7 separate regions of the Homo sapiens genome follow, and regions 1, 2, 3, 4, 5 and 7 are each linked to region 6. The links come from fine-mapping of genetic effects on gene expression. A gene starts in region 6. Each other region holds a variant in brackets. All regions are shown on one strand. Distances are between the middles of the regions. Region 1 overlaps CACNA2D3 (calcium voltage-gated channel auxiliary subunit alpha2delta 3). Region 2 has its middle 76 kb from the start of CACNA2D3. Region 3 overlaps CACNA2D3 (calcium voltage-gated channel auxiliary subunit alpha2delta 3). Region 4 overlaps CACNA2D3 (calcium voltage-gated channel auxiliary subunit alpha2delta 3). Region 5 overlaps CACNA2D3 (calcium voltage-gated channel auxiliary subunit alpha2delta 3). Region 6 holds the start of CACNA2D3 (calcium voltage-gated channel auxiliary subunit alpha2delta 3). Region 7 overlaps CACNA2D3 (calcium voltage-gated channel auxiliary subunit alpha2delta 3).

What was found.
Region 1: its variant is fine-mapped to the expression of CACNA2D3 in whole blood (TOPMed, PIP above 0.99).
Region 2: its variant is fine-mapped to the expression of CACNA2D3 in spleen (GTEx, PIP above 0.99).
Region 3: its variant is fine-mapped to the expression of CACNA2D3 in skeletal muscle (GTEx, PIP 0.99).
Region 4: its variant is fine-mapped to the expression of CACNA2D3 in whole blood (TOPMed, PIP above 0.99).
Region 5: its variant is fine-mapped to the expression of CACNA2D3 in whole blood (TOPMed, PIP above 0.99).
Region 7: its variant is fine-mapped to the expression of CACNA2D3 in whole blood (TOPMed, PIP above 0.99).

The regions. Positions count from the first base shown.
Region 1 is chr3:54,998,258-55,002,324 of GRCh38, forward strand. The region is part of intron 31 of CACNA2D3 (calcium voltage-gated channel auxiliary subunit alpha2delta 3); the gene reads left to right. Among named protein-coding and RNA genes, the nearest start is that of LRTM1, 72 kb to the left of the region's middle. The variant T/A (reference allele first, on the strand shown) is at 1,961.
Region 2 is chr3:54,045,009-54,049,075 of GRCh38, forward strand. It overlaps the pseudogene CABYRP1. Among named protein-coding and RNA genes, the nearest start is that of CACNA2D3, 76 kb to the right of the region's middle. The variant T/C (reference allele first, on the strand shown) is at 2,123.
Region 3 is chr3:54,877,687-54,881,753 of GRCh38, forward strand. It overlaps CACNA2D3 (calcium voltage-gated channel auxiliary subunit alpha2delta 3), which reads left to right. Exons shown (of 38, transcript NM_018398.3): 19 at 1,332-1,403; 20 at 1,664-1,725; 21 at 3,110-3,177. It overlaps CACNA2D3-AS1 (CACNA2D3 antisense RNA 1), which reads right to left. Exons shown (of 7, transcript NR_046666.1): 4 at 1,002-1,258. Among named protein-coding and RNA genes, the nearest start is that of CACNA2D3-AS1, 22 kb to the right of the region's middle. The variant G/C (reference allele first, on the strand shown) is at 1,896.
Region 4 is chr3:54,984,619-54,988,685 of GRCh38, forward strand. It overlaps CACNA2D3 (calcium voltage-gated channel auxiliary subunit alpha2delta 3), which reads left to right. Exons shown (of 38, transcript NM_018398.3): 30 at 1-52; 31 at 3,065-3,135. Among named protein-coding and RNA genes, the nearest start is that of LRTM1, 59 kb to the left of the region's middle. The variant A/G (reference allele first, on the strand shown) is at 1,867.
Region 5 is chr3:54,976,176-54,980,242 of GRCh38, forward strand. The region is part of intron 29 of CACNA2D3 (calcium voltage-gated channel auxiliary subunit alpha2delta 3); the gene reads left to right. Among named protein-coding and RNA genes, the nearest start is that of LRTM1, 50 kb to the left of the region's middle. The variant G/A (reference allele first, on the strand shown) is at 2,308.
Region 6 is chr3:54,120,665-54,124,731 of GRCh38, forward strand. CACNA2D3 (calcium voltage-gated channel auxiliary subunit alpha2delta 3) reads left to right here and starts at 1,888. Exons shown (of 38, transcript NM_018398.3): 1 at 1,888-2,171; 2 at 2,849-2,930. The coding sequence starts at 2,050. LOC124909381 (a long non-coding RNA gene) reads right to left here and starts at 2,778. Exons shown (of 2, transcript XR_007095914.1): 1 at 2,393-2,778. RefSeq lists a silencer at 645-694.
Region 7 is chr3:54,965,799-54,969,865 of GRCh38, forward strand. It overlaps CACNA2D3 (calcium voltage-gated channel auxiliary subunit alpha2delta 3), which reads left to right. Exons shown (of 38, transcript NM_018398.3): 28 at 2,652-2,713; 29 at 4,002-4,046. It also overlaps a transcript of LRTM1 not described here. Among named protein-coding and RNA genes, the nearest start is that of LRTM1, 40 kb to the left of the region's middle. The variant A/C (reference allele first, on the strand shown) is at 2,241.

The DNA.
Region 1 (4,067 bases), 880 kb after region 6:
GCCGAGTAGCTGGGACTACAGGTGCGTGCCACCACGCCAGGCTAATTTGTATTTTTAATAGAGATGGGGTTTTGCCATGTTGGCCAGGCTAGTCTTGAACTCCTGACCTCAAGTGATCGGCCCACCTTGGCTTCTCAAAGTTGTGGGATTACAGGCGTGAGCCACCACACCTGGCCTTTAATCAATTAATTCTTATGGTTACTGTTCTTCTTACCTGGGTAAGATGCTGATGGGATTAATATCTCAGTATCTACAATTTTGTTTCTCTTTATATTATCAGCACCTGTTGATGAAAGGTGTTGATTTGGTGCCAACAGACCCTCTGCTTAATCCACCAAATGAGTGACGCTTTCTTGTTGCTCCCCATTCAGTGTTCAGCAGTGAACCCTGGGAGGTCCTGATAGCCTGTGTGGTTTATTCTTGGCTAATGATGGGTGCTCATTAGCTAAAGTTGGTTTTTGTTTTGTTTTGTTTTGTTTTGTTTTGTTTTGTTTTGTTTTGTTTTTTGAGATGGAGTCTTGCTCTGTCGCCCAGGCTGGAGTGCAGTGGCGTGGTCTCAGCTCACTGAAAGCTCCGTCTCCAGGGTTCACGCCATTCTCCTGCCTAAGCCTCCCGAGTAGCTGGGACTACAGGCACCTGCTACCATGCCCGGCTAATTTTTTATATTTTTAGTAGAGACGGGGTTTCACTATTTTAGCCAGGATGGTCTCGATCTCCTGACCTCATGATCCGCCCGCCTTGGCCTCCCAAAGTGCTGGGATTACAGGCGTGAGCCACCGCGCCCGGCCAGCTAAAGTTGTTTAACTAATTTCCAGTTGGAGGGCTCAAAGGCAGTAGGACCAGGGTTTTGTAAATTCACTGCCTCTGCTGTGTTAGAGACACTGCACCAATCTTAAAGAACAGTGCCATCTCTGCAAGAAGTTGCTGTGGGATGAGATGATGACTGATACGAGCAGGAGAGAAGGGAGAGCACATTTTGAATCTTCTATTAGCACTCCTATCAACAGGTTGAGCCTTCTACTTTCCTGGCTTTCTGAGATGTAAGAATGAGTAAGGGCTTCCCATGGCGACGGTCTCTTTGTTAAGAATTTCCTATGTTCCTCCCCCATGCCTTTTCAATTGCAAGTTGAAAGCTGCCCCCAGAGGACACATTTTATAGCGCAACAAAGAAGACATATTTTTACATGCTACCTTAGTGAGTCATTTTGCTTCTCAGACTTTTCAATTCGGAATTGCTTAATTATGTCCCATGATAGGTCTCTATGTCTAATGCCTCCCTTGTCCTGTTTTTAGGGCTGTATTTGCAGACATTAAGCTGTTTCAAGATTGTTTTTAGGCCAGTTGTTTAGCCAAAGTGAGCTAATTTGATGAATCATTACAGGAAAATTACCTGGCCTCACGGTACATAGTAGGTGTTTAATAAATGTTGAGCCCCACAGTTGCTAACCACCCCTAAATTAGCCAGCCTAAATTAGCTGAGCTTATGCTGTTAAAATGCAGCCTGCTAATTCTTAGAGCAAATATTTTTCTTGGTCAGGATTTTTGTCTAGTTGGAAAAGAAAGAACAGTATCAGCAAAATGGCTTTAAACATGTCTTAATGTCATGAGTTTGTCATCCAAGGCTCTACCCAGCATGGGTGCAGGGCTACCAGGCTTTGTTTGTATTGCTTTGAGTTGTTTCTTCAGAGGCCGTATCTGCCTTCTGTCAAAGTTTAAAGTTTCAAAGTTCCACCATCCATGTGGGCACACAGCGATGCTAATGATAAGGTTGGTTGGAGTAGCCTGGTGGTGATGTCATGGGGATTAAGGCATGTTATCTGTAATAAGAATACACCCCCACTGCTGAGTGCAGCTGCACACAGCACCAGTCTTGGGCTGGGCATGATTCTCAGAGCTGATTTTAGAGTCAAATGAAAGCAGGCAATTATCATGTTCTTTAACTGTAATCAGCCGAACAGGA[T/A]ACAGGTAGCCGCAAAATGGAGTTATTTAAAACAGTAACAAAGTCACTTCAAAAAGGGTAATAATCTGGAAGTCTCCTGCTGCAATATCTAGTTAAAGCTGTCCAAGTGTGGAGAAGACAGGGAAGGCTTATTTTGTAACCTCGTCAATGGCAATAGTATCAGGAAAGCCTCCTTTTGAAATAGAGGAGTGGGGAACAAGGGGAGGGAGAGTGTTAGGACAAATATCTAATTCACATGGGGCTTAAAACCTAGATGATGGGTTGATAGGTACAGGAAACCACCATGGCACATGTATTCCTATGGAACAAACCTGCTTGTTCTGCGCATGTATACTATAACTTAAAGTAATATTTAAAAATAAATAAATAAATAAAAGGAACCTTGGCCTGGGGGCTGCCCCAGAGCAATTTAGTTTAGCCCCAACATGTAAACTAGAGCCTTTGAAAATGATCCAAGGAGAATCCTGAGTTTCCTGCCATCTGTCAGAGTGGTTACCATGGTAAGAAGTATTCACAAGTGCAGCCAGCTGTTCCAGTCTGGCCTGGTGACTCATCAGCCCTTCAGCTTGGGTTGAAAGTTGATTCTGGACATTGGTTATCTTGGGCAGCATTTTTTGTGACATTCCAATAAGACCCTGGGCTGGGGAACAGGTCTGAAGCCTAAGCATTTCTTAGAATCTGTCAGAGCCTGCTTCTGAGCAGAGAGCAAAAGGTGGTGGATTCAGCTTGGCCCCCTACTAAATCTGGCTCTATCACCAATGATCTATGTGAACTTGGGCATATTTATTTAGGCTGGCTAAGACTTGGTTTTCCCCTCTGTAAAATGGAGATGATTATAATCTATCTTATAGGGATGTGTTTAGAGGAGTACCTCGCTTATGGTTGCTAAACAGAGTTCAGTACACATCAGCTGTTGTTATCATTGCCTTCCGCTAAGAAGCCCATGGACAGAAGTTCCTGCATCATCGCTTGGTAACACCAGCACAGCTTCTGATGGTGTCCTTGTATTGCAGTAGCAAGCATGGATTTTCCTCTGCATTGTCTATGCCAATGAGCTAAGAAAACCGGGAGCCTTGTTCATCTTTCAGCCAGCTGGGTAATGCCTGTGTCAATTCCCATTCCTTTAAACACCAGCCCATTAATTGGTAGTGGCAATGAAAAGATACCAATACTTATAACAGCAGCTATAGCTCTGCCTCCTGTTGGAATACTTCCTCTCTAGCAGGCACTGTGCTGAATGCAACACATAGATAACCTTCTTTAACCCTATGACCACCCTATAAGGTAGTCATTATTCTCACCATTTCACAGATAGGAAACTGAGGCACCAAGAGGGTTAAAAAGACATTGTTGTAAGTGGATGAGTTAGGATTTGAGCTCAGGTATTACTGACTTCAAAGATGGCATTTTCACTATGTCACATTGCCTTCTCTTGAGCCTTTGGGAACAGTGCAGCTTTAAGAGCCCGAACTCTAACAAAGAATAAAATCAGTCTTCTGTTGTAAGGATCTTAACAACGTTGGCACACTTAGAGCATATTTCAGTGTACTTCTACACAGCTGGTTATTTAGATCTCAGAACATCTCTGTAATTGTTTAATAAGTCAGGAAACGAAGCCTTTGAAGAGTACCAGCAAGCTGCTCAAGAATGCACCCTGGAGGCCGAGCGCGGTGGCTCACGCCCATAATCCCAGCATTTTGGGAGGCTGAGGCAGGTGGATCACAAGGTCAGGAGTTCGAGACCAGCCTGGCCAACATAGTGAAACCCCATCTCTACTAAAAATACAAAATTAGTTGGGTGTAGTGGCATGTGCCTGTAGTCCCAACTACTCGGGAGGCTGAAGTGGGAGAATCGCTTGAACCTGGGAGGCAGAGGTTGCAGTGAGCCAAGACCATGCCATTGCACTCCAGCTTGGGTGACAGAGAGTGAGACTCCATATCAAAAAAAAAAAAAAAAAGAATGTACCCTGTATATACGACAGGACCAACTTTTGAAACCATGGCCATCCTGCATCCATGGCTATGAGACTCCAAGCACATGCACATTCCTCTCAACCCCATGCTGCCTCTCACCTGGCTCTGGCACATGTTTTAGGTGTAGAGACAGC
Region 2 (4,067 bases), 76 kb before region 6:
CCATGAGGTACCTTTTAAAAGCAGGAGTCAGTTGTAAAGTAACCAACCCAAAGTGGAATGAATATATGTTTGTTTCTCAGTTTTCACTTTCCACACTTCAGGCACACTTTTATGGCTCAGTTTCTGAAGGCCAGCAAAAGGAAACAGAAGGAAATAAAGACACGCCTTTTAAAAAGCTGGTATTATGAAGAGGAAACCATAATGTTCCTGAAAGTGTGGATAGATACAATGCAGACCTCCTCTAAGAAATATCCAAATGAGATTTTAAAAACTTTATAATGACCTTTTGTGTAGCCTGGCAAAAGCAAATGCAAAACATGATGAATGTGTTACACTTATAATGCCCCTTGCCCAGAAGCTTAATTCAATGTGGAGGGAATTCAGACAGTATCCGTGGCCATGTTCCTTGAGGAATCACTGAATGCCTCAAGACCTGAGGCCAATTTTTGTGATATAGCATACTTTTAGACAAAGCTAAACTGATAGAATTCCCAGGACACAGAAATGCCTTCTCAACCAAACTTACTTTTCAGATGTACTTTTCTGGGGTTGAAGCAGGTGGTTTGTCTCAAAGAGGCCTCTGTTTAAAGGAATGTTTGCTCTTTGGGAAATGCTATCACTGGCAGCCTTGAATCACATTATCAAGTTGGTTGGCTGATTGAGAGCTTGGCAAAGATCTGAGGCAATGAGTCATGCAACAAAGTGAAGTTTTGATGAGTTAAGGAAGGGAAGGACCATCCCAAATTTGGGGGGCTGTCTGGGGTGGGGAAGCTTCTGCTGCGCACAGCCCTGGGGTGGCTATTGGTGTTGGAAACCAAGCTAGTCTCCTGGTCTGGTCCTGCTGAGACAGGTGAAGTCCTTGACTTTGCAAACAGCTTGCTTTCCTTAGAAAGGACCTGGAAACATGGAGTCGGACAGTTTGTTTAACACTTTAGTCATGGTATGCACTTTTGGCCTGAGGACTGAGAGTTTGTGTCTTATTCAAATGGCGAGTTGAGGTCTCCTGCTAGATGGTAGTCTACCAGGCACAGGCTTGCAAAGGACCTAGAATTTGGTCACCTCCAAGAATGGAGACACTTCCTCCTATGAAGAAGTGATTATTCTTGTTTAAGACCTGGAGAGAAGCTAGTATATCTCAATTTTCAGCTTAGCTAGCCAAGTTCTAGCAGGAACTGTGATAATCGAATCAGCAAAGTACATTCTGGGGGTAAAATGTTTACTATACAAAGGTTAATTCACCTCTGCAAAGAGATACTTCCTCACCCTCAGAGCTTCTACAGATTTCTGTAGAAGTATTTTTGGGTTTAGTGCCCTGACCATAAAAAAGTTGGGAAAATATATTATACTCTTGGGCCCAAGAGTAACTATCAGTCACTCCTGGAAAACTCTAGGTATCACTGGTATTACGGTAGGAAATAAGAAGAGAGTAGGAATTGAATGCTTGTTGAATATTGTGGTTGGGGAGAGGAGTAAATTGAGGCTCAGAGAGCTTAATTCTTTGTTCAATCTAGAAGGAGATAGAACTAGGATTTGAACTCAGGGCTATCTGGCTATAAAACCCGCCACATTTCTACTATTCCATGCTTGATAAGAGCAAGATTCCGTAAGCTGGTAGTTGGAAGGAGTTTCTGGCATCTGCAGAGAGGGAATGCCTCTTCATTCCTTTTTGAGACTTTTAGTTAAATCCATATGCTTTACATCAGTGTCAAGTGATCTGGGAAAGGCCCTTTTTTTCTTACTTTTGCATCTGTTCAATTAGAGAGTGGAACCAGATCACCTCTCAGGACACTGCTGGCCCTGACTCAATGTTTGACCAGAGTAGAGCCAGTGGGCAATTCTGGCTGTGTATTTGAAATGGATTGTGTTTGCCTTTGTATCAGAGATAAGCCAGGTGGCCACAAATCTGTTTCCTCTTCCTAGGCACATGGCTAAATTGTATTTCCCAGCCCCCTTGCATCTGTGTGGGCCTTGTGACTAAGTTCTCACCAGTGAATGCAAGGGCAGATTGCTGGGTCATTTCAAGGCCAAGGCAGCTGAGAGCAGTTATGCTTCATCCAGTTCACTTTGCCCCTTCCACAACAACCTTGGAGACTATGTGATGTGGGTAATAGCATTCCCAAGA[T/C]GGAAGAGGCTTGGTTTCCTGAGTCAGTGCTGGTGGAGAGCTGCCAAGGGAACTGCCCAACCAGAACATCTCTGCATTTGACTTTGCACGAGTGAAAAATACAACTGATTGTTGAGTCACGCTATGGATACGTGGGATTGCTTGTTATAGTAGCTAATGTTAAGCGCCCTAATACAGGCATCCAGTGTCCATTCCCTCATTCCTTTTTCTGAAAGAAACAGCATCATTTTCAGTCCATATGCTCCAGAGGATTTACAATCATCTCTCAGTATCCATGGGGGATTTGTTCCAGGACCCCCACAAATGCCAAAATCCGTGGGTGCTCAACTCCCTGATATAACCTGGTGTAGTATTTGCACATAACCTACGCACATCCTCCCATATACTTTAAATCATTTCTAGATTATTTATAATACCTAACACAATGCCTACACATCACTTCATTTGTGTGGATTCATTCTAGTACTTGTTGCGCGGCAAATTCAAGTTTTGCTTTTTGAACCTTTGTAGAATATATATATTTTTTGTACTTGTGTGAAGTTTATTGATATGTTACACTTGGTGGCAGACTCCTCCCTGAACGTTTGTTGACCCAAACAGCGTCATTTCTGGATCAGTTTTAAGTTTCTGCTTTGCGAACTTTGTGAGCATGAGTCACAGTTATCTCCCAAGCAATACTGTAACTTCCAAAGGGAGCACATTTGTCACCAGATCCTGAACTTTTTAAAGCTACCCCTTCTACTAAGAAAGCAACAGAAAGAAAAACAAGGCTTTCTGGCCTGGGGACATCTTGTCCACTTGTAGCAAGATGAGCATTCTGGGGGCTTAAGGTAAGTTTCTGGAATTTCTCATCTGCAGGAACAGCAATGGGCACTTATACTGCAGCATATCTCTTCAAAACTTCTGACTTTGAAACAACAGCATGTCCAGAAAGAGGTTTCCATTCCTTTGCTTTCTGAGCATTTGAGCCTACTAAGATAAAAGGTGGGGCACTGGTCTTACTATCTTCGATCATCTTGTAAGTTGGAGATCATCTTGTAAGTTGGTGGATGCTGCAGAAACTGTGGATCCTTAGGATTAGATAGACAGAGTTGCTTGGGGAAAAGGCCCAGGTGCAGGTGGCAGTGATGGGTGACTTTGTTGATTCTTATCAGTTAGACAATAAGGGGTCCACATGTTAGAATATCGTCGTGGTTGTCCTGCTTCACTTGCTGCCATTGCTAATATCTGAGAAGCAAACCGAGCTGTGTCAGCTGGGACATAGGCAAACTCTGGTGAAACAGCTGTTGGAGATGGTTATGAGGGTGGGGTAGTAGTCTTAGGGGTGGCTGGTTTGGAAGAAAGATCACGAACTGCTTCAGTTTGCTCAGTGCCTAGCTCAGCATAAATGGATGGAAACTGGGTGGTTTTGTCACTACATCCTGTTCCGGTTACATTGTCTTTGTAGATTTTTCCATCTGTGTAGGCACTTTAGATTCTGTTCCCTCTGACCACTTCATCCAGAGAAGTAGTCCCTTCTCTATACATAATAAGTTCTTTAAAATAAACTGCTGCAAACTGGGTCATGTTCGGTGGGTTGGTTTTGAGAACGGCTTTGCTAATTTTCCTGAGCAGAGTCTTGAGGCCATAGGGTACGGCAAGTCTGGGCTTTGAAGAAATTATTTTGGCAGGATATCTGTAACTCAGCTTCTTTCCAGCTGTGCTCTTAAGAGCTTCCTTGTTGCCCCCTTGCTGGAATATTTTTTAAACAAATATTTTAGATCTGCAGTTGATTGAATCCATCTATGCAGAACTGCGGATATGGAGGGCTGACTGTATGAGTACTATGAGCCTGGCCAATCAGAGCATTGCATGTCCCCCACCCTTAGCCACAGAGATTGGCTTAGCAATGGGCATTTGAGCCAAGCAGGGCCTTTGGGGAAGGCTCTGTTCTACTGGCTTTGAA
Region 3 (4,067 bases), 760 kb after region 6:
GGCCTTGGACACTCCCAGACCCCCATGTTGATTGTTCTGTGCTACTGGGAGTTGGGGGTGGGGTGGCATGGAGACACAGCGAGGCTTACCTAATCTCTAGTTTGCCTGGGGAATGTGAGAGGAGAAGGTCCCAAATGGCTTTAGGCAGGCACCAGAAAGAGGAAAAATGAAAACCATGTTAAAGATAAATCGAGCCGTTCTTAAAAGTTAGAAAGTAGACTTAATTAGGACCAGCTCTCCCTGTCCAAAACCACAAAAGTTAAAATGGGAAAATATTTCCAGAAATGCCTATTATGTGTTGTTAAAAAAATATCTAGAGTAAAATATATGTTTTATTTTATACATGCCTCCAGCTAAAAATTATGCCTTTACTCACTCACACAGAAGATGAGAATGCAAACCCAAATCTAGACAGCCTCGAATCAAATTTAGGTTGCTTGCTAGTGTTGCAGTTTTCTATCGGCCAGATCTTACTCAAGCTCCTCAAAGGAGAAAAGAGGGGAAAAGATGAAAAAGACAAGAGAGGGGTGGGGAGAGAGCCTTTCCTGACAGGCTGTGGCATGTCAGCGTTTGCTCCTATTCCATTAACTGGCCTTCTCTGTCGTCTTGCCTTGGTGCCCATGACGGCACATCTTTCATCACTGCGTCTGCTGTCCTCCTCTGAACTCATGGAAGGGCCACATGTAATTAGATGAGGTCAGCTGGGGGTGGGGGAGGAGAGCCAGGCTCGCTGCTCCTAAACAGGACCTCCAAAAAATCAGATACAGGGTCGCTCCTGTTCACTGCCTCATCAGCAAGGTCATTAATTGGCCCAGATTTCTCAGAGAGCATTTAAAGATGATTCATCTTAGGAAAGGCTAACCCCTGTCTTCCAAATGCTTGGCCTTTTTTTTTTTTTTTCTTCTTCTTTTTAACTACTGTGTAGGAAAACGTCTTTAACTTGATTACGTTTTGAAAAGTGATTTCTCCATGACAAATCAGTACCCTTTTTGAAAACGTACCTTGTCCCCAGAGACGTTCTTGCTCGGCATTTCAGCGGGTCTCCAGGAGTTCACGCTCTGACCCCCGGGATTCATCAGTATCGCCAAGGCTCTTTTGTTATTGTCCTGAAGTTTACACGAGCTCCCCAAATTAAAGATGAAGGTCATTTATTTATTGTTGTTAGCCTGTCTCCCATTGTACATGAGCAGTTGGGTGTTTTATTCTTCAGAAGCTCTGTTTTCGAGGTGTAAGTTCAATATGGAGGCTCCACTGCACGCTGAGGATGCAAGATGTCCAGATTACATGATAACCCAGGGAAGAACTAACACACTTTTCTTTTATCATTTTAGTTGAGAAATGCTATGGTGAATCGAAAGACGGGGAAGTTTTCCATGGAGGTGAAGAAGACAGTGGACAAAGGGGTACATTTTTCTCAAACATTTTTGCTGCTTAATTTAAAACAAACCACTGTGAAAAATTAGCTTTGAAAGCTATATCTGGAATAAATATCTTTCGCTGAGATCATTTTTCTCTTGTCTTTACTTATCTCAAACAAGATTCATGTAGTACTGTTAACCTGATCATAGTGTGTCCATTTATTTTTATTTATTTCTGAAGACGTCACTTAGCAGACTAACCATGTTTTCTTTTCTCTACGACTTTTTTTTTTTTTTCAATCTAGAAACGGGTTTTGGTGATGACAAATGACTACTATTATACAGACATCAAGGGTACTCCTTTCAGGTAGAGCTGACCATAATACATGGACATTCCATCAGACCCATCAGTTGTGTTTGTACAAAACCTGCTGACACTCTCAGAGCTCATCATCTGAAGATAACCAAACACCCTGCCAAAAGGCTGGAAAGAGTGAGGAAGGGGCTTTTCCCAGGCTGCTTTTGTTTTCCAGAAGG[G/C]GGGGAGATGGTTCAGGCTCACCTAGGAGAACTCACTCAATCTGCCATGGCTTTGCATCTCATTGTCAAGCAAATATGCTTTGGGGGTTCCCGCTAAGGGTGAAGACAAGTGCAGAGGGTTACCAGGGTCCTTAACTATTGAACTTGCTGCTTTGTGAGTTCCATTTCACCTTTTATTTCCATGACCAAAAAAACAATCCTTCAAACCTGGAGGTGGCATATCCATTCCTACATGTTGTGCCTCTGTTTCCATTTCTCTGAACTGTCCTTGTGTGCTTGTCTACTTTTGAATCCTGTTGTTTCTCTTTGTAACAGTCCTGAAAAATGGCTTTGCCTCATTGGCTGCTTTCAGATGTGTATGTAGCATTCTAAAGTTTCCCACTACTATTAACTTAGTGTTGTAATTCATTTTGTAAAAAATTATTTCAGTAAGCCTGCTTCATATTCCTGAACTGGCGTCTCAGAGCTAAGGAGAGAAGGAGTTTACTGACTGTAGAATAATCTGAAAAATAAATTCTAGCATTGTTGTCCTAAACTGCCAAGGATCATGGGTGGATTCCATGTGGAACCAGGAGCAAATAAGGACCACATGAGCTGCTAAGTGGGTTTGCCAAATAGTCTCTCTAACGTAAGGGACTATGTTTTAAAAACATAGTCTCTTGCTTTTGATAAAAACGGAATGGATCTTAAATCAAGCCAGTGAGTGTGAAAAACCTATTAGACTAGGGAGAGGATTGGGCAAAGAAGCCTGCAACACAGTAATGTGGTTACACTCATGTAGTAGTGGAAGTTTTTGTTTTTGCCCTTGAGCAGGGGTCAATTTCCCGAGTCCCAAAGTCTAGGGGCTGGAGAGACCCATCTCTGGCTGAATGCAGGACAAGGGTGTATAAAGAGCAGGGCTCATGGTCCTTGGGAGGGCATCTGAGAGAAGGGCTTGCTGGAAGGGCGAGCAGTTTGCCACAACTCTGAAAACACAAAGAGTAGCCAATTGCTGCTGGCATTTCTGATCAGAAGTTACTTTGAAGCAGCTGATTGAACCTAAGAAAAACCAACACCAGTGATAATCAGTGGGGTTTTGAAAGTAAACAGTTGGAAAAATTGTTGACAGATCATAAAATGGAAATGTGAAAAATGGAAAATTAAAAAATGTTAGCCCACAAGTCTATTCGAGTCGATGCCAGGGATTTCAAGATTTGCTTTGTCTCTCTGCACAGTTTAGGTGTGGCGCTTTCCAGAGGTCATGGGAAATATTTCTTCCGAGGGAATGTAACCATCGAAGAAGGTAAGATACTGCCTGGCTCGTCTTATCCTTTGGTGTGGGAGGAAAGCTCGGGAGCTAGCTACTGAGTTAGCTGAAGAACTTGTTCATCTGTCCGCACCTGTGACCAGTCCCTTGGACATTCCACTCAAACGAATGCCTACTTGATAATTCTTAATACCTTTCTTCTTCCCTGGTGTGCCTAGATTTCAGAATGACAGGAGTTCCGATTCATGGTTGTGATTTAATTTACTTATATTCTACTTTCATCCACAAAGCTGTTGACTATGAGTAACTCACAGTCAACAGCATTATGGATGAAAGCAGAGTATCAGTAAATAGGAATCATCCCTCAAGTATATTCTTCTCATACATAAAAATCAGTACTTGGGAGAAATACAAATTTATGAAATAACTCATGCCCAGGGGAAACCATGAAAACAGAGATATGAGAGCCTTAGTCTCTCCTACACAGTTGAGCCACGTATTTCACTTGTGTTTCATGGCAGCCCTGGCCCAAAGGGAAATGTGACCATTTAAATGATTTACATAGGTCAGAGGGAGTAAGTAGCACCTTGAAGTTCCCAGACCCTCTTATCTTCATAAAGCACAGAGGCACAGTAAACTCTCAGTAAACAGGAGCAGTTGTTATAGCTCTTTAAATTTTAAAATTGCTGTCACATGTGCTATCCTTTTCATCTGCCAGCTCCCTAGTAGTTCAGAGAGGTTACCTGTCCCAGCATTAGGAGCTCACAGGGGTGGTGGACATTGTTTCTGAAGGGCACCACTCCCTGAGTGGCCTTGAGTGACTCACTTGCAGGTCATTAGGTTTTGCATGTCCACAGAGGAGGAGTGGGCCCAGAACAGTAGTCTTTCTGGATGTCTTTAGGGAGGACAGCCAGGAATGGGAAGGT
Region 4 (4,067 bases), 860 kb after region 6:
TTACCTCATAGACAATAATGGATTTATTTTGGTGTCTGAAGACTACACACAGGTGAGTGAAAATTTTCTACCAGCTCCAAGTAAGGATCTCAGAATGTGCTTGGGTCAGGGGGAACAAATTATGGTGTTAAAACTTGGAGACAATGATCTTTATTTAGGAGGTAATAGCAGGAGATTATAAAACCTTATTTCCATCCCTCTAAGAATGCCACAGTCTGCTTCTCAGCAGGCCCCAAAGAGTTTTTACCTCCCACTGGGGGGTGCAGGGGGGTGACAGTGCCCAGGGTCTGTTCTCTCACTCATAAAATGTTCAATTTATAGAACTCTTAGCCAAAGAGTTGTCTGTGCCACATAAAGAACTTTTGCCTCGAGGGTGGGGTGCCTTAAATAGTTTGGGCAACTTTAAGGTTTTTTTCCTTCCGATATTTCATCTTCATATGTGTGCACACACATACACGTATGTTTCTACATAATTATTGTTTATGGCTTTCGTTCTGGTTTTTGCTTTTTAAAAATCAGTTATCTGAGTTCAAGGATTAACAGCTTGGGCTCTCAACACCGAGGGACAAGGGTCCAGAGATAGAAGAGGAATATTCTTCATTTGACTGCACCATGTGCAGTGTAGGGGTGGGAGGGAGAGAGATGAAAAGAAACCAAGCTGTGGACTTGAGCACAGAAATCTCCACTCTGCCTGGAAATCAAAATAAGAGTTAAAGTCGATGGTACTGTAATAGAAAAACGAGTTTTTCCATTCAAATTTTCTGCATTAAAACTTTTCCTGCAATTAGAAATTACATTAACGTATAAAAAAAGGTAAAATACAAACAAGTTCAACAGTGCATATAATAAAGTAACGCCATCACAGGAGGAAGGTGGTTTCTGATGTTAGCTCTCTTCCTTAACTAGTTTTGGGATCATCAGCAAGTTCCTTAACTTGTCTAGACCTCTAGATAGGCTCTGTGCAATGAGGATGGTTGACGATATAAGGTTTCTTCTAATTCAAATATTTGAGTATACTAATACATTATAATGAAGTCTCTTTTAAATCATTTAAAATTCTTTAGTAGTCAGCAGTATGATAGGTTCACTGCTTAATCAATTAGTTAATTGTCCTTAAGTGTGGCTTCTTAGGGTCTGAAATGAATGGTTTGGTAATTTATAAACAGGGGCTCCAGGAAACTTGAGGAATTGTGCTTTCATTTCCTGTCTTATTTTATGAGAATGTTGTAGGATTTTCAGTGCCCCTTGGTTGCGCTATTGAGACTCAAAATGCCCATTCCCAGTCTCCTCTGATGCTTTACATCACTAGACATGGGACAGTCCGTGGACATTAGATAGGATGAATGGGCCCATGAAACAAGGCCAGTCCCTGAGACAGCAGGAAAGTCCTTTGGCCTATAGTTATATGCCCTGTTGGCTGGGAGGAGGAACATAGGCATTCAAGAATCTATGGAGCAAGAATACACATTAGTTGCCTAGAGGGAGGAGCTCTAGTCTTCTGCTCTACTCATGTAGGGGTGAGAGAGGAATGATCCCGGGGCTCAGGAAGGGTGCAGTGGATGTCTTCCGGGGGTGAGTCCTGGAGCAGCCAACAAATGATGGAAACAGTGTCTCTGTTTCAGCCATGAGCAGCCATGGCCACTACAGATTCTCTGCTCTATGTCTCCATGGAATAAGCCTGCGATAGACCCAGTGAGTTTGCCAGCCTGCTCAGCCTGGGCTTGTTTGATGTTGTCTGACTTCCTGTGCCCCAATTAGGATAATTCTTCATCTAACAACCAGTTTCATTGAAACTGGCACATTACACACACGAAATACAAATGTCCTTCTTGCTCCTAGCAGTAGTACACGCCCACAGAGTTTGCA[A/G]AAGTTTCCAAGTTTCCCTGTAGTGAAAAAGGAAGTGGTCAATATTCAGTCAGAGAAATGTTGTTTCCTTCTTCCTCCTTTTCTCCCCCTTTACATTTTGCCAAAGTTTATATATGTGTCTTGCTACCTGAAAACTCCCAGGAGTGTGGTTGAGGTCACTCAGTTAGTTGCAATGGAATTGGGGTTTAGTTAATACAAAGCCTACGGAATATACATAATTTGGATTCTTATTGCAGTGCCCTCCACCCACCCACCCACCCACTCACAAGCTACAAATCTTCAGAGCACCCAGAGTAGAGATGGGGCTTCTCTTCTGGTCAACACTGGCTCATTTCAGCATGTTGGCAGAAGGCCCTTACTGCAGGCTCTGTTCCATGCACTGCGTACGCCCTCCCCCATGGGACACCTTGCATGATAGTAGCTCCAGAAATTCAGAGGGCATGCATGAGGATGTTAATTCTTCATTCCACCAAAGTTTGCAAATCTTGGCCAGCACCAAGAAGTAGACTTACAAAAACATCAGCCTGGTGGTGGGGAATGACTGCAAAGCTTCGAATGACCTTAAGACAGCCTCAGGTGTGGGGTAGGCCATTAGAAGTCTCATTGGCCATGCTGTCTCCTCAAGGGGCTGGATAGTCTTACTCTTGGTCAACATGTCAACTGCCTATGACAAAATGAAAGTGATCCTCAGAAAGTGATTCTGAGAAAGGGTGGATTCTCAACTGCAGGAACTTTATTGGGCTGATGAAGTGGACTGCTGTATTTCCCTAAACAGGTCGTCCAGGAATTATAAACAATTCTTTTTATTAGTGCTTAGGAAGCCCTCTCATAGTCTGTTTCTGCCTATATGAAGTAGTGTTTTAATCACACGGGATTATGTGCATATTACTACCTACTCCATCCAAGGGTAGTGGGGTATGTGTGTGTGCACATGTGTGTGCATGCGTGTTTTAATTTCAGCATTCAGCATGGGTTACGCAGCCCCCTCCCACGTACTGTGGAAGCATTCACATCTGCTCTCTAGTTTGCTGTGTAATCCCATGAGTTCTCATGACTGTTAAAACCTTTTCCACTTTCCTGAAAACCTGCCTTTTGCTCCTGTCAGTTCCAGGACACAGACTGTGTCCCTTTTCATTTCTTCTCTCCTGTTTGGGCACATTATTTATCTACACCTCCTCATATGTCTTCTTCCCCATAGACTGGAGACTTTTTTGGTGAGATCGAGGGAGCTGTGATGAACAAATTGCTAACAATGGGCTCCTTTAAAAGGTAAGGGTTTTATGGTCCACTGCATTCCCCCCAAAAGTTTTCCTAAATAAAATAAAACAAGCCAAGGTCAAATAAAGCAAGCCCAGACTTGACCCTGTGGCTGGTTTTTACTTGTGTTCATGCTCCAAAAGATCTCTCTGAAATTCGATGCCTCTTGCACGAGTGTTAGAGTGTTAGAGTCTTAGAAACTCAGTTCACAATGAGTTTCCTGTTCACCCAGCAGAGCATTTATTGGAGGCCAGTATTGAAGTAGGAGGCTGCACTGTGATGTGATTATGTCAGTCTGAAGCAAGTCACTGCGAAGAAGTAGGAAAGGTTTTCACCTGGCCGGAAGGGTGGAGTGTATTTTGTCTCCTATTGATTAACCTGGGAAGCTCCCTAGAAATCTGGAACTTGGGGATGAAAGGTGGTATTTAGAGACTTCTTGATGTTGTTTTAGAAAATCAAGTGAAAATTCTCAAAATCCGCTCTTGATGGAGGTAAGTTTAAGTCTGCTTCTGGAAGAAAACCTAGATGGTGCCAAATTCCACAGGTGGCAGATACTGACTACTCATCCAGGTGTAAGAACTCTCGCTGATCCTGAATAAAGCTTGTGTAGAGCAGCTTCCTTATGGCCCCATGTCCCTCATGGGCAGGCCAGCCATGCTCTTGGGAATACCTAAACTTCTGGGAAAAGCCATCATCCCATGAGATCGGGTGTTAGAATGCCTCCCTGGGGGTCCATGCTGTCTCCCTTCCCTTGGCCTCCCAGGAAGAATGTTAGCCTTTCAAGTGGTGCTTTAATGGGCATATTTGATGCTGTTAAATATATAATGGCAGGAAATGCAAGGATGGCCCTCCAGCTTCCCTGAGAGATCCATTGCACATCGGTGGCCAGTGGGTAGGCAGGCCCCTGGTTTATTACTCTTCTGCGGCTGAATGGCTAGGAAGTG
Region 5 (4,067 bases), 860 kb after region 6:
TCTTTTAGAAAGTAAGGGTGGGGGTCAGCCAGTAGAAAGAGTGTGGGCTTTGGAGTCCCATAGCAATGGACTCAAGTCTCACTTGTGTGTGTGTGACCTTGGAGAAGACAACATCTCACAACAGTCCCCAGAGTGTGATGTTCCCCTTCCTGTTGTGGGGTGGGGGGAGGGGGGAGAGATAGCATTGGGAGATATACCTAATGCTAGATGACGAGTTAGTGGGTTGCAGTGCACCAGCATGTCACATGTATACATATGTAACTAACCTGCACATTGTGCACATGTACCCTAAAACTTAAAGTATAATAATAATAATTAAAAAAAGACAACATCTCAGTTTTCTCTTCTTTCCAAGAGAAAAATTCCCTGCTTGATGCTGTGAAAAGTGAGGTTTTCATGAGTCGATGTCCTCCTGTAGCTGCCATCCTCCTTATTCTTCTTCTTACATTCTTATTGTTACTATTATTAGTGACAGTCATGTTTTATGAAAAACTTCTTTGTGTGATAGTTTTCATCTGGTATTCTCCCAAGGAGGCCACTCCCCTATTTTTGCAGCTTGGTTTTCCAAGTTCTGAGTTAAAGCAGTGTTTGCCCCTGCTCCAGAGCTCTCAGCTCTGTTCCTTCCACACCAGAAGTGGGAGTGGGAGGGAGCAGGGCAGACGCCTGAGAAGTGAGTCTTCTGATCTCCCTTCTACTGGTGCTGGCTGTTATAAGGAGCATTATAAGGAGGGCCTCGTTCTAAGAAGAAAGGTCAGAAAAAGAACCAAATGTTTACAGCAAATAATAAAAAGTTATTTTGAATATTTTTCTCTAAATAAAGTGGAAAGTATGAAACTGTGTTTATTTTTTAAATAAATTTAGGTTATATTTGCAATTGTACTCTAATTTTCCAAAGAAACAAATGGGGTAAGGGGCCAGGAGTTTAGTGTTTCTGATAAGATGATAAAATAGCACAATATGAAATCCTTCACTTTATATTTTGATTTTTCTCAGAATGACCACAAAAAGGGTAAAATATAGTAAAGAGTTTGATCAATTTTCCTAGGGTACTTTTCTTAGTCCTTTGCTGTTGAAATTATTCTCTTTGGAAGTACAGCTCATGTTTTATTTGTAGCAGGTATTTTTTCATCTTTCTGCCTCTGACAGATTCTAATGTGCCAATGGCTTCCTGTGCGATTGGAGCTGTTTAACGTTACTTTCATGGACTTCATGAAATCTTGCCTCTTTGTCAAGATTTTCAATTGACTTTATAATCTATTTGCCTTGTACCTGTATTGCATTGCTCAATATTTACAGTATTAGGCAAACAGAAAGATATTGACCAAAGATGTAGGTCTAATAGCAAGAGTACTAATTAGTTAGAGATGTTGGAGTAGGGACTAAGTTTTAACTAGGAGTAGAGGTTATGATGATTTGTGGCCTTATATGCAGCTGTGGGGATTTGAATATTGACAGTATCTGAATATGGAGGCCACTTCTGTACTCAACATGTATTTACTGACTCAACAGAGGTTAGCCGCCCCTTGCTTCATTGTCTGTATCTGCAGAATGAGCATCATGATGTTACCTGAAAGGGATCCCAATCCAGACCCCAAGAGAGGGTTCTTGGACCTCATACAAGAAAGAATTCATGGAAAGTCCACAGAGTAAACTGAAAACAAGTTTATTAAGAACATAAAGCAATAAAAGAATGGGTGTTCCATAGGCAGAGCAGCCTCGAGGGCTGCTGGTTACCCATTTTTATCGTTATTTCTTGATGATATGCTAAACAATGGGTGGATTATTCATGCCTCTCCTTTTTAGACCGTATAGGGTATCTTCCTGACGTTGCCATGGCATTTGTAAACTGTCATGGCACTGGTGGGAGTGTAGCAGTGAGGATGATCAGAGTTTACTCTCATCACCATCTTGGTTTTGGTGGTTTTAGCCAGCTTCTTTACTGCATCCTGTTTATCAGCAAGATCTTTATGACCTGTATCTTGTGCTGACCTCCTAACTCATCCTGTGACACAGAATGCCTTAACCGTCTGGGAATGCAGCCCAATAGGTCTCAGCCTCATTTTACCCAGCCCCTATTCAAGATGGAGTTGCTCTGGTTCAAACACCTCTAACATTTCCCCCGTCCCTTTTATAAGAAAACCCTTAATCCTAAGGGTTGCAGAGGGATAAAGATGCATCTTCTGTAACTTCTTCAAGCTGATAGGGGCAATGCCATTCCTGCCTAACTATTGGGTCTCTTGCATTCAGGGTAGATAGAGAGGAGCTCAGTCAGAAAGCATTGGTATGGCAAGGGCCGTTCATGACTCC[G/A]AGTTCTGACAAAAGATGATATCTAGAAGATTAAAAAGTGCTCAGTGTAAGAAAACATTTAGTAAGCTTGTCCAGCATTTCTACACAAAGAGTACAATAGCAACGTATTCCAAAACAGTAAAACAAAATAAGTAAAATTATCCCAAGTAAACTAAATAAGGCGTTCCATGAACTGGGCAACTATTGGAACCAAGCTGATATGAGGTTGCTAGCTGATTCCAATACATGCCCAGAATTAGAATATTGATCCAGATTTTTACATTACCCATCCCTGTTGTTTCTTCTGAGCAGCAGTCAAGAGATCACTGGTTGGTTCACAGGAATAAACAGGGTTGGCCTAAATTACAGAAAAAAACCTTAAAATCAACTGATGAGACTAGAACTTAATAACAGGTTATACCACAGTTCTTGAAACATAATTGTTCTCTAGTTTCCCATTTTTGCTGGAGACAAATCATAGTAAGACTAATTTGCTTTATTATACTTGGCCTGATTATTTGTATACAGTGCAGCAAGAATAATTATTTTTCACATAGGCTTTTAAATTTGTCTTTGATGAAATTTTGTTCCATAGAGGGAATCTCAGATAAGACTTTTTTTTAAAGCCAAGCCTAGCCATGGGTTTGTACCCCAGATATCTATGAGTTGAGTAAATTCTTCTCCTCTTGAGGTCCCAAAATAACTTGGGGCTCCTGGGCCTTTCAGAAGGTGACATTCTTTACTTACCACAGGTCAGGAACCCTGTACAGGGACTGTGTAGACAAGGTATGAGGCTAGTTTTTTTCAAGGGGCTCTTCTTGGCTCTCTAAGTCAAGTTTGATTCCTTAAAGGTAAACACACCATTCCAGTCAAAGCCTTGGTAAAATAACCAGTTTCTCCAGTTGTATCCTATTACAATAGAAAAGAGATTCTTACTGCATTTATGCAAATAACTATATTGCCATAAGTTAAGATACTCTCAAATAGTTTCCAAATTCTGGAGGAACCAGGTAGAGAGAAACAAATATTCTCTAAATTTTTTCGCAGAAGTATAGTTTACTCAATTGTTAAAAGCTGTAAATAGCTCAAAAGAAAAATTTTCTTGGCCCTGGAAAACAAAAAGGATCAGCAATGTTTTAAGCAAAAAAGTAAAAGAAAAATATTACTTCAGTTTTTTATTAGTTCAGTTCATGCAGTTGACTCCTATTCTGCTTGAACAGAACTCCTGTTCTGTCATGAACATTTCAGCTCTCTGTGAGAGTCCTGAAACTTTCTTCCTCTATTCTAATGTCACAATCTCCAACATTATCAGAAATCTGCATTCAATAGCACTGTCAGAGTTCTATAGTTGATTATAAACCATCTCTTGAAGAAGATTAAAACAAGACAACAGTTGTCTGTGGATGATAAAAAGTCTTAGGACAGCCACTATTAAAGCCACAATTGATAAAGAAATTTGGTTACTTCTGTGGCATCCAAATCTTACATAACAATTATAACTATTAATAACATACAGTAAGCCATGTTAGAATTATAGGACTTCTTATAATTTTGGAACACATACCAATAGCACAACTATATAAATATATCCCAAAGAAAGCCAAACACTGTTTCACATTTGATAATGCTTCCTGTTATGATTTTTATACCAAATAAGCCAAGTTTTACCTTTGCATTAGTGTACTATTAATGTTAAATCCAATTCTTAATAAAACCTTATAGACAAATGTATTCAGTCTTAATCAGTTTGACCACGAGGTAAGATTTTCATAAACCTTGTA
Region 6 (4,067 bases):
AACCCCCAATTTGAGGGTCAACTCCTGGGACCCCTTGCCTCGGGGGTCAGGCCGCGCTTGGCTCGGTTTGGAAAGGGCTGGCACGCTTCCTCAGGCGGAGGGTATGCACAGAAGCGGAGAATTCATTATAACCGGTTAGTCATCCGTAGAGGCTGTAGACACTGCCCGCGGGCGGGGCGCACCTGGCGCTCCTGGAGAGGGGCCTGTTCCTTGCGTTGCCCCCCAAGGTGGGAGCGCGACCTGCCAGAGCCCAGGGGAGCTCGGGTCTGCCCGCACTCGGGAAAAGCACTAAGAGCCTCTCGGTAGCAGTCCTTCTCCCTCGCTGCCAACTCTGAGATCAAGCCCAACATCTGCAGGGGTAACTTTTTCCAGGGACTACTGGAAAGGAGAGCCGGCCTGGCTCCTAGCCGGACACCACCTGGCGGAAGCTGGAGCCCGCCCTTACTTCCCTGCAACCTGAGGATGCTGAGGCCAAGGGCGGGTGACGGGGCAGAAAGCAAAGCCCTGGTTGCAGAAAGGCATGCAAATATGAACCCAGGTGTCTGGTGCGCCGGGAGCCCCGGCGACGTTAGGAGCGCACTCCTTGCTGGGGTCACCGGAGTTGCGCTTGGCCGGGCAAGGATGACTCAGCCTCACTCCGGTCGGTCTTTACCGCCAGCCTGCGCGAGGGCTCCACAAAGTTCCCAATCACACCCCATACCTCGCACGGGGGAGAGGGGTTCTGCAAGCTGGGTCCCGGGGTGGGGGCAGCGGCGAGAGAGGCGGGGAGAAGCCTGGTTCCCAGAACGCGCAGGGGCTTCTCCGGCTTCCTTTCTCCTCGCCCCTGAGGGCGGCGAGAAGGCGCCTCCTCCGGCGCTCACTGCCTCCTGCCCAGTGCGGTGGGCGCCGGAGTGGGGAGCAGGCAATCCCCCAGGCTCGGAGAAATCTTTTATCCCGAAATCCAGGGTGTCCCCCGGTCAGGATCGACTCGGCGCCGCGTTGGCTTCCTCGCTCAACCCTGACATCCCGGTCCCCACCAGTCACCGCAGCCGGGCGGACTCCGAAGGCAGCGGCCGCTGGGGAGCCCCGGGGCCTGGGTCGGGCGCGCAGGGGGCCGCTGCGCTGCGGCCGGATGCCGGGAGCCCCGCGCTGGTGCGCCCAAGCCGTGGTGGCAGCACCGCCCTCCGTGCTTTCCCCTGTCGGGCGCCGCGGCCGGAGGAGCAGCTGCGGGCGGTCACGCAGCGCTGCCCTAGCCAGAGCCCCGAGCTCCCACCCAGTCCCATCCCCAGCCCGATCCGCCCCGCGTGCGATCCCGCCTGCCGCCGCGAGCCTGTGCTCCTTTCTGAGATTTCTGCTTCTTCCCCAGCTCCCTCCCCGCAGGAGAATCGCGCGGCGGGGGCGGAGGGCGCGCCCCCTTTAGGTTCCGCGGCCCCCGACCCCGCCCGGCCCAGGGGCGGAGCGGGCATGCTACGCCCTCTCCTAGCAGCCGCCCGCAAAGTGCGGAGCGCCGCGCCCTGCCCTCGGCTTCCCTCCCGCGCCCCCAACCCCCACCCTGGCTAGGGTCGCCCGGCCCGGGGCCAGCCCCAGAGTCGCGCCCGCGGTGGCGGACTGCGGAGTTGTAAAGAACTCAGCGGCCGCAGTAGCCCGGGTGGGGCAGGGCGCGCTCCGCCGCGGCCAAGGACACTGGAGTTTCCGAGTCCCCGCCCGCGCGGCGCCTCCTGCCCCGCCGCCCTCCCGCCGCGGCCCGCCGGACTCCCCGGGGCCGCCGAGGCGGGGCCGGGCGGCTGCTGCTGCTAGAGGCGCGTCTCGCTGCCTCCTCCCCCGCCCGCCTCCCTCCCCACCTCTCCTCCCTCCCTCCCCACCTCTCCTCCCTCCCTCTCCTCTCCGCCCTCCCCGCCCCCCCCACCCGCTCCTTTTTCTGCTCCCCAAGTGAGCCGGGCGCGCGAGAGGCAGGCGGGGCGGCGCGGAGCGGAGCAGGCAGCCCCGCGCGCTCGCCCACCGCCCGCTCCGCGCAGCTCCCCGCGGCCGCTCTCGTCGCCGCCGCAGCGGGCGCGTCGGAGGGAGCCCAGCATGGCCGGGCCGGGCTCGCCGCGCCGCGCGTCCCGGGGGGCCTCGGCGCTTCTCGCTGCCGCGCTTCTCTACGCCGCGCTGGGGGACGTGGTGCGCTCGGAGCAGCAGATACCGCTCTCCGTGTAAGTGCCGGCTCCTGCGCCGCCCGGGGAGGGGACCTTGCCGCCTGCGACCCACTGTGCCCAAGTTTGGGCGCCTGCAGGTGCGGCTGGGCAGGACCCGCCGCGGGCGTCGGCCTCGCCGCTCGCACCTGCCTTTCGGGACCCGCGTCGGGCGGCGAGGCCGGGGTGGGATGCTCTGGCCCCTGCCCGCAGGTTGCCGAGTGAGATCTGGAGAGGCTCACCTCAAGTGACGGCACCAACTTTGGAGCCTGGTTACCGAATCCAACTTCCATGGGCCGCTGAATTTCCCCCCTCTTTGCTCTACTGCCGCCCCACTTCTTTTTTTGGGGGGGGGATGGGTGGATTTCTTCTGACTGCTATTTGCCAGGTGATGCCCAGTTTGGGGGGTCGAGTCCTCGGGCAGTGGTTCGAATGAAACTCAGTGGTCTTTTTAGAGAGCCTGGGAGACTTTGCGCATTCTTAACTCCGCGACCCCCCTCGGGCCCCCTCCCGCGCTGCGCTTTGCAGTTTTGGTGCTGGCAGTTTCTACCAAGCCGCTTTTTCTATCTTTTCTTCTTTTAAAACATGTTACATCGCACTGCTCCTTCAGCCATAGTCCCATGTGTGCGTGTGCGTGTGCGTGCGTGTTGACTGTGACACGGGTGTTACATATCTTCCTGTGCCCCTTCTCCCTGTAGGGTGAAGCTCTGGGCCTCGGCTTTTGGTGGGGAGATAAAATCCATTGCTGCTAAGTACTCCGGTTCCCAGCTTCTGCAAAAGGTAAGGTTTCTGTGGTGGCAGGAAGCGATGATTTTTCCGGCACAGAAAATGGAGGCAGATTTAGTTTTCCAAACAAACGTGAGCCCCGAGCAGCATCAGTTATCGGAGGACTCTCTGATCCCCGGGTTTCTTGGCATTGTACTATGCAGTGACTTCTTCCTACCAACCGGTTATTTTTAGATGACACTTGATTCTAACCACAAAGAAAAGCAGGATACTCACTCGCACTGTCCTGGCTGGGGCTCGGAAACTGAGTGTTTTTGCATGGCTCTCGTCTCCGTGTCGGTATTGCTGTTTCAGTGCCAGAGCAGATGCTCCTCGGGCCAAAAAATGCTAACTTCATCCAAGGGGCAGACTCAGTGCCTATTTTGTGATGCCTTTCACCTTGCGTTGGAGGCGTGGGGTTCAGTGTATCAGAGAAAGACGCTGCACTATTGTTTGTCATCCCTGCAGTTGTACAATCCCATTATTCCCCAATCATCTAGACCCAGGGCTAGGATGCATTACATCATTGCAGATAAGGAGAATGAATGTGGTTATCTTTCCACTCAGCTGCACTGCCGGGTAATAACCTATGAGAGTAGTCCACAAACTTAAGAAATGGGTCTGCATCCATGTAATTCTGGAGAGTAATGAGAATGGAGAATTGATTATTAGGTTCTTATCACAAGCTGCATCAATTTTAATTCAAATAGGCAGCATTTTAAGCATAAGCTTAAAATTACATTGTGAGATAAATGGTCCTTCGTTCTCCCCTTCAGGAAATAAAGAAAAAAAAATGGGTCTGGGAGGAGAGATTAGAGGGGTTCAAAGAATTTCAAGTTAGCAGATCAACAGGATTAATCAAAGTATTCTCTTGATGATAGAAAATAAAATTGGCCTTTAGGGAATAATTCTCTGAAAATGGGTACAAACAGCTTAAATTGTTAAGTTAACTTTTAAACATTTTAAAATATGATTTTTGGGCCAATGTACCATATGTGTTATGCATGCTGCCTGGTAACCAAGTACGTATTTTATTTATGGCATTCCCCTTCAGAGAGTAGCATTTTTGGGGACAGTATATGAAACAGTTTGCCACATGAAATCCAAATATCGTAATAAAGCGTTGGCCCACCATGGAATGACAAAAGTTAT
Region 7 (4,067 bases), 850 kb after region 6:
GCAGCCAGGACTATCCAGGAGCCTTTGGGCAACAACCTCATGGTGCAGGCAGGGGTGTGAGTGAGGAGAGAGGGAAGCAGTTCTAGTTCAGGGCATCAGGACCAGGACGAGGATGCAGCCTGCTGGAGGGAGATCAGAGAGAAGCAGCCTGCATGATTAATGGGATGGAGGGACTGACTCATGAGGAAAGATGAAAGCGCCCCAAGGAGCTGGGGTAGAGGACCGACAGGGGCAGATGAGAACAGACTGCAAGTATGTGAGATGGATAAACACCCAGCGGGGAGCAGCTGGCTTCATCAGGGAGGTGAAGATGAGGGCTCCATCAGAGAACGGGGGTGGGGGTCTCAGAAAGGGCATCAGGAGACTCATGGAAGCTCAAGAGATGACAGGTGGGCCCAGGACAGCTCTGGGCTGTTGGAGGGAGAAGCACCATGGAAAGGCTACCCTGGAGTGACTCTTTCAGGGAGTCAGACCCTGTTTTGCACCCTGCACCCTGGCCTGTCAGGCATTTGGAAGATGAGATTTATTTGAAATGCAGTCAACTACCATCAGACTCAAAATCAGCTTCTTTCAGGCATTCTCTGAAATGTTCTCCAATGCTGGGAAGAACAGCTTTTGTGTTGTGTAGTCTGGCCACGTGGCCCACATCACAGTAGGTCCCCAACAGCTGATTTACTAAAGCCATCCCCCACCTTGGCTGTGCGTGAGAATCATCTGGGACACTTTTAAAACATACCCAAGCCAGCCACATGGCTCACATCTGTAATCCCAGCACTTTGGGAGGTTGAGGCAGGCAGGTCACTTGAGCCCACGAGTTAGAGATCAGCCTGGCTAACATGGTGAAACTTCACCTCTACAGAAAATACAAAAATTAGCCAGGTGTGGTGGTGCACACCTGTAATCCCAGCTACTCGGGAGGCTGAGGCATGAGAATCACTTGAACCCGGGAAGCAGAGGTTGCAGTGAGCTGAGATCACACCACTGCACTCCAGCCTGGACAGCAGAGTGAGATTCTGTCTCAAACAAACAAACAAACAAACGATTCGCATAGGTGTTACTCTTCTATATTTCTCTCTAACTGCTGACTATAATATCACTTGAAAGTTTTTTTTAAAAAGCAAGCATTTACCTATGGGTCGTCTGTGTACTCAGCATCTTGCTGGAGGCAGGGGTCCAGCAGGGAGCAAGAACAGGTCCTCATTCTTGGGAAGGCTGTGGTCCAGAGAACGAAGGACACTTAAGGCAGAGCAGAATGAGCCTGGGCACCGACATGGTGCATTTCAGAGGCTTTTCACGTTCTGCATGTTGCAGCCGTGCACTGCTCTAGTCTTTATCCTAGAGTCGGAAATTCTAAGTGCAAACACAGATGGCAAATCTCTCCCAATGTACACACCCAGTTAACCTTTACTCTCAGGGCTGGCTTCAACAATTTCTTTAGGAAGTAGAAATGCCCTTGATAGTTATCAGGGTAACAACAGCCCAAGACCTTTATGAATCTCCAAGTTCCTGAAGCCAGCACAACAATGATTACCCAAATGGGAGGTCCAGTATAGTGGCACGCAAAATTTTTAGAGTATTTAAGTGATTTTTTTTCTTACAATTGTGTATTTCTTTTGATGGGTGTTCCAGTTTTATTTAGGTTGAATTACTGTAGGTCTTTAAGCAAAAGAAAGAAATGTGGAAGGACAATAAGAGTATTGGTGGTATGCAAATATGGTAAAAATGGGGAGGTTGTGTGCAACAGACTACAGTTTGCAAAACTGCACTGGGGTAAATGACGTGCTCCAGGGAATTCAGTATTCCCTGTAGTCTCATTCTTCTGAACGCCTCTCAAGTTTTCCCACCATCTGAGGAGCATTTTGCCCTTACCATTTTACTTCCTGAGATGGTTTCAGGTCTTTCAAGTGGTTTGGGCTTCATGGAGAAAAATAAGGTGAACTTCCTCATGTTATAGTTTTGAGGTTCCACTAAATTTCACTTCCCAAAGTTTCAAGTCACATTCTTAACCTCTTCTCTTTTTGGCTGTTTCTGTCACTAGAACTAGCATTCACAGTTGCTTTAGGAAGCTTTTCACAGACAAAGAAAAAATTACATAATTTTACCAGAGTTCCATGGGAGAGAAGAACCTTGAGATGTGGACTCTAGGAGGCCAGTTAAACTAAGACACATTATAGTAAAGTGACTCACTTCTGAATTCTAGCCTCATGACAAGTGCTTTTCAAATGTTACGTCTCAAAAAC[A/C]CATGCAGAGTACACATTTTAGACATGCAAGTTCAAACAGTAATAGCTGACAGGAACTGAAGCAATAGTGATCTTTTGAATTTTTTTTTTTCTTTCCTCTTCTCAGCTTGTGTTGGGGTGGGGGTAGGGGCAGTGGTGCAAGCATATGAATTTTAGAAATGCCGAAGTAACATGTCTCCAAAGAGCGATCTGCACTGTGCTGTTTGTTTTGTATCGAGAGTTCTGTGAGTGCAGGTAAACTTGAGAATTCTTTACCTGAAAGATAAAATGTTTTAGTTGTATGCTTCACTGTACATTTTATTTTATATGCTTATATCAGCTTCTTGCCATGACGGATAATTTTCAACGATAATCTTAAATAATTGTGTAAAGGGATCACTAATGCCTTGTTTTATTTATAATTTGTCCCAGCTGTAGGCATTCAGATGAAACTTGAATTTTTCCAAAGGAAGTTCTGGACTGCCAGCAGACAGGTAAGTTATAATCAGCATCTTGAAGCATTAGCGACACTGTTATTATACAGGTGTTCCCATTTGGGTACCTGGAGCCTGAAAGTGCCAGATTTCCGATGAATGTTTGTAAAATCAACTGCCGGCTGCTCAGATTACCTTTCATTTCACTGCAAAATAAAGGGCTGTCAGCATGTTAGACACCACATGCTGAGCAAAGCAGGGAATTTGCTCCTAGGAACAGTTTTAATTGTGGGATCAAGATAGTGACCTTCCAAAGGAGTTTTTCTTTTAAGTATTGGGGCCTTTTGTGAGATTTTCATTCTGACTTTCTCCTAATCCTGTGGTCGTGCCTGGTTACTTACTTGTGAATCTCATTATCAAAATCTAGAAACCCTTTACGTAACTAGTTTCTCCAAAACATGTATCTGACTTCTTTGTTCACAGGGTCTACCTTGGAGAATCTGGGAACATTGTTTTCTTTTCGCTATGCTCTCTGTACTAAGTCATCTCAGTGGTATTTGTTGAGTAATTTGGTAGAAAGGGCCACTGATAAGTTGCTTCCATCTGACCAAGAATAAATGTTAGAATGGCTTATCATCCTTTAAATTAAGATACTTTAGGAAGCTATAAACTAAGGAGATGGACAGGGGTTTTTTAAAGTCACTGAGAATTAATGAATTTTAAATTAATTACATAATTGTATTTTTAGTTACCAAAAGATTTGAGATCTTAAAAAGATATCATTACTGTTTAATGACAACATAAAGTAGACTTTTTTTTTTTTTTTTTGAGATAGTCTTGCTCTGTCTCCCAGGCTGGAGTGCAGTGGTGCGATCTCGACTCACTGCACCCTCCACCTCCCTGGTTCAAGTGATTCTCCTGCCTCAGCCTCCTGAGTAGCTGGGATTACAGGTGCCTGCCACCACACTAGGGTAATTTTTGTATGTTTTAGTAGAGATGGGATTTCGCCATGTGGCCAGGCTGGTCTCGAACTCCTGACCTCAAGTGATCTGCCCTCCTTGGCCTCCCAAAGTGCAGGGATTACAGGTGTGAGCCACTGTGCCTGCCCCACCCCGCTCAGTTGTTTCATAGATCTTTTATTTTACATTACTACTTGGAATTGATACTGATTCCAGAGATAGTAGACAAGACACATCATGGAGCATTCCTTTTCAATGAAATTGGGTATTTGAATTCTAGCCCATGACTTGGATAGCTTGTCCTTAAGTAGCTCAGTGGCAGCCACAGCAGGCACTGGGATGCCCAAGTAACATAGTAACACATTTCCCTCCACTTTTTGCCTTCACAGTGTGCTTCCCTGGATGGCAAATGCTCCATCAGCTGTGATGATGAGGTAAGACGGCCTCCTGGTCCT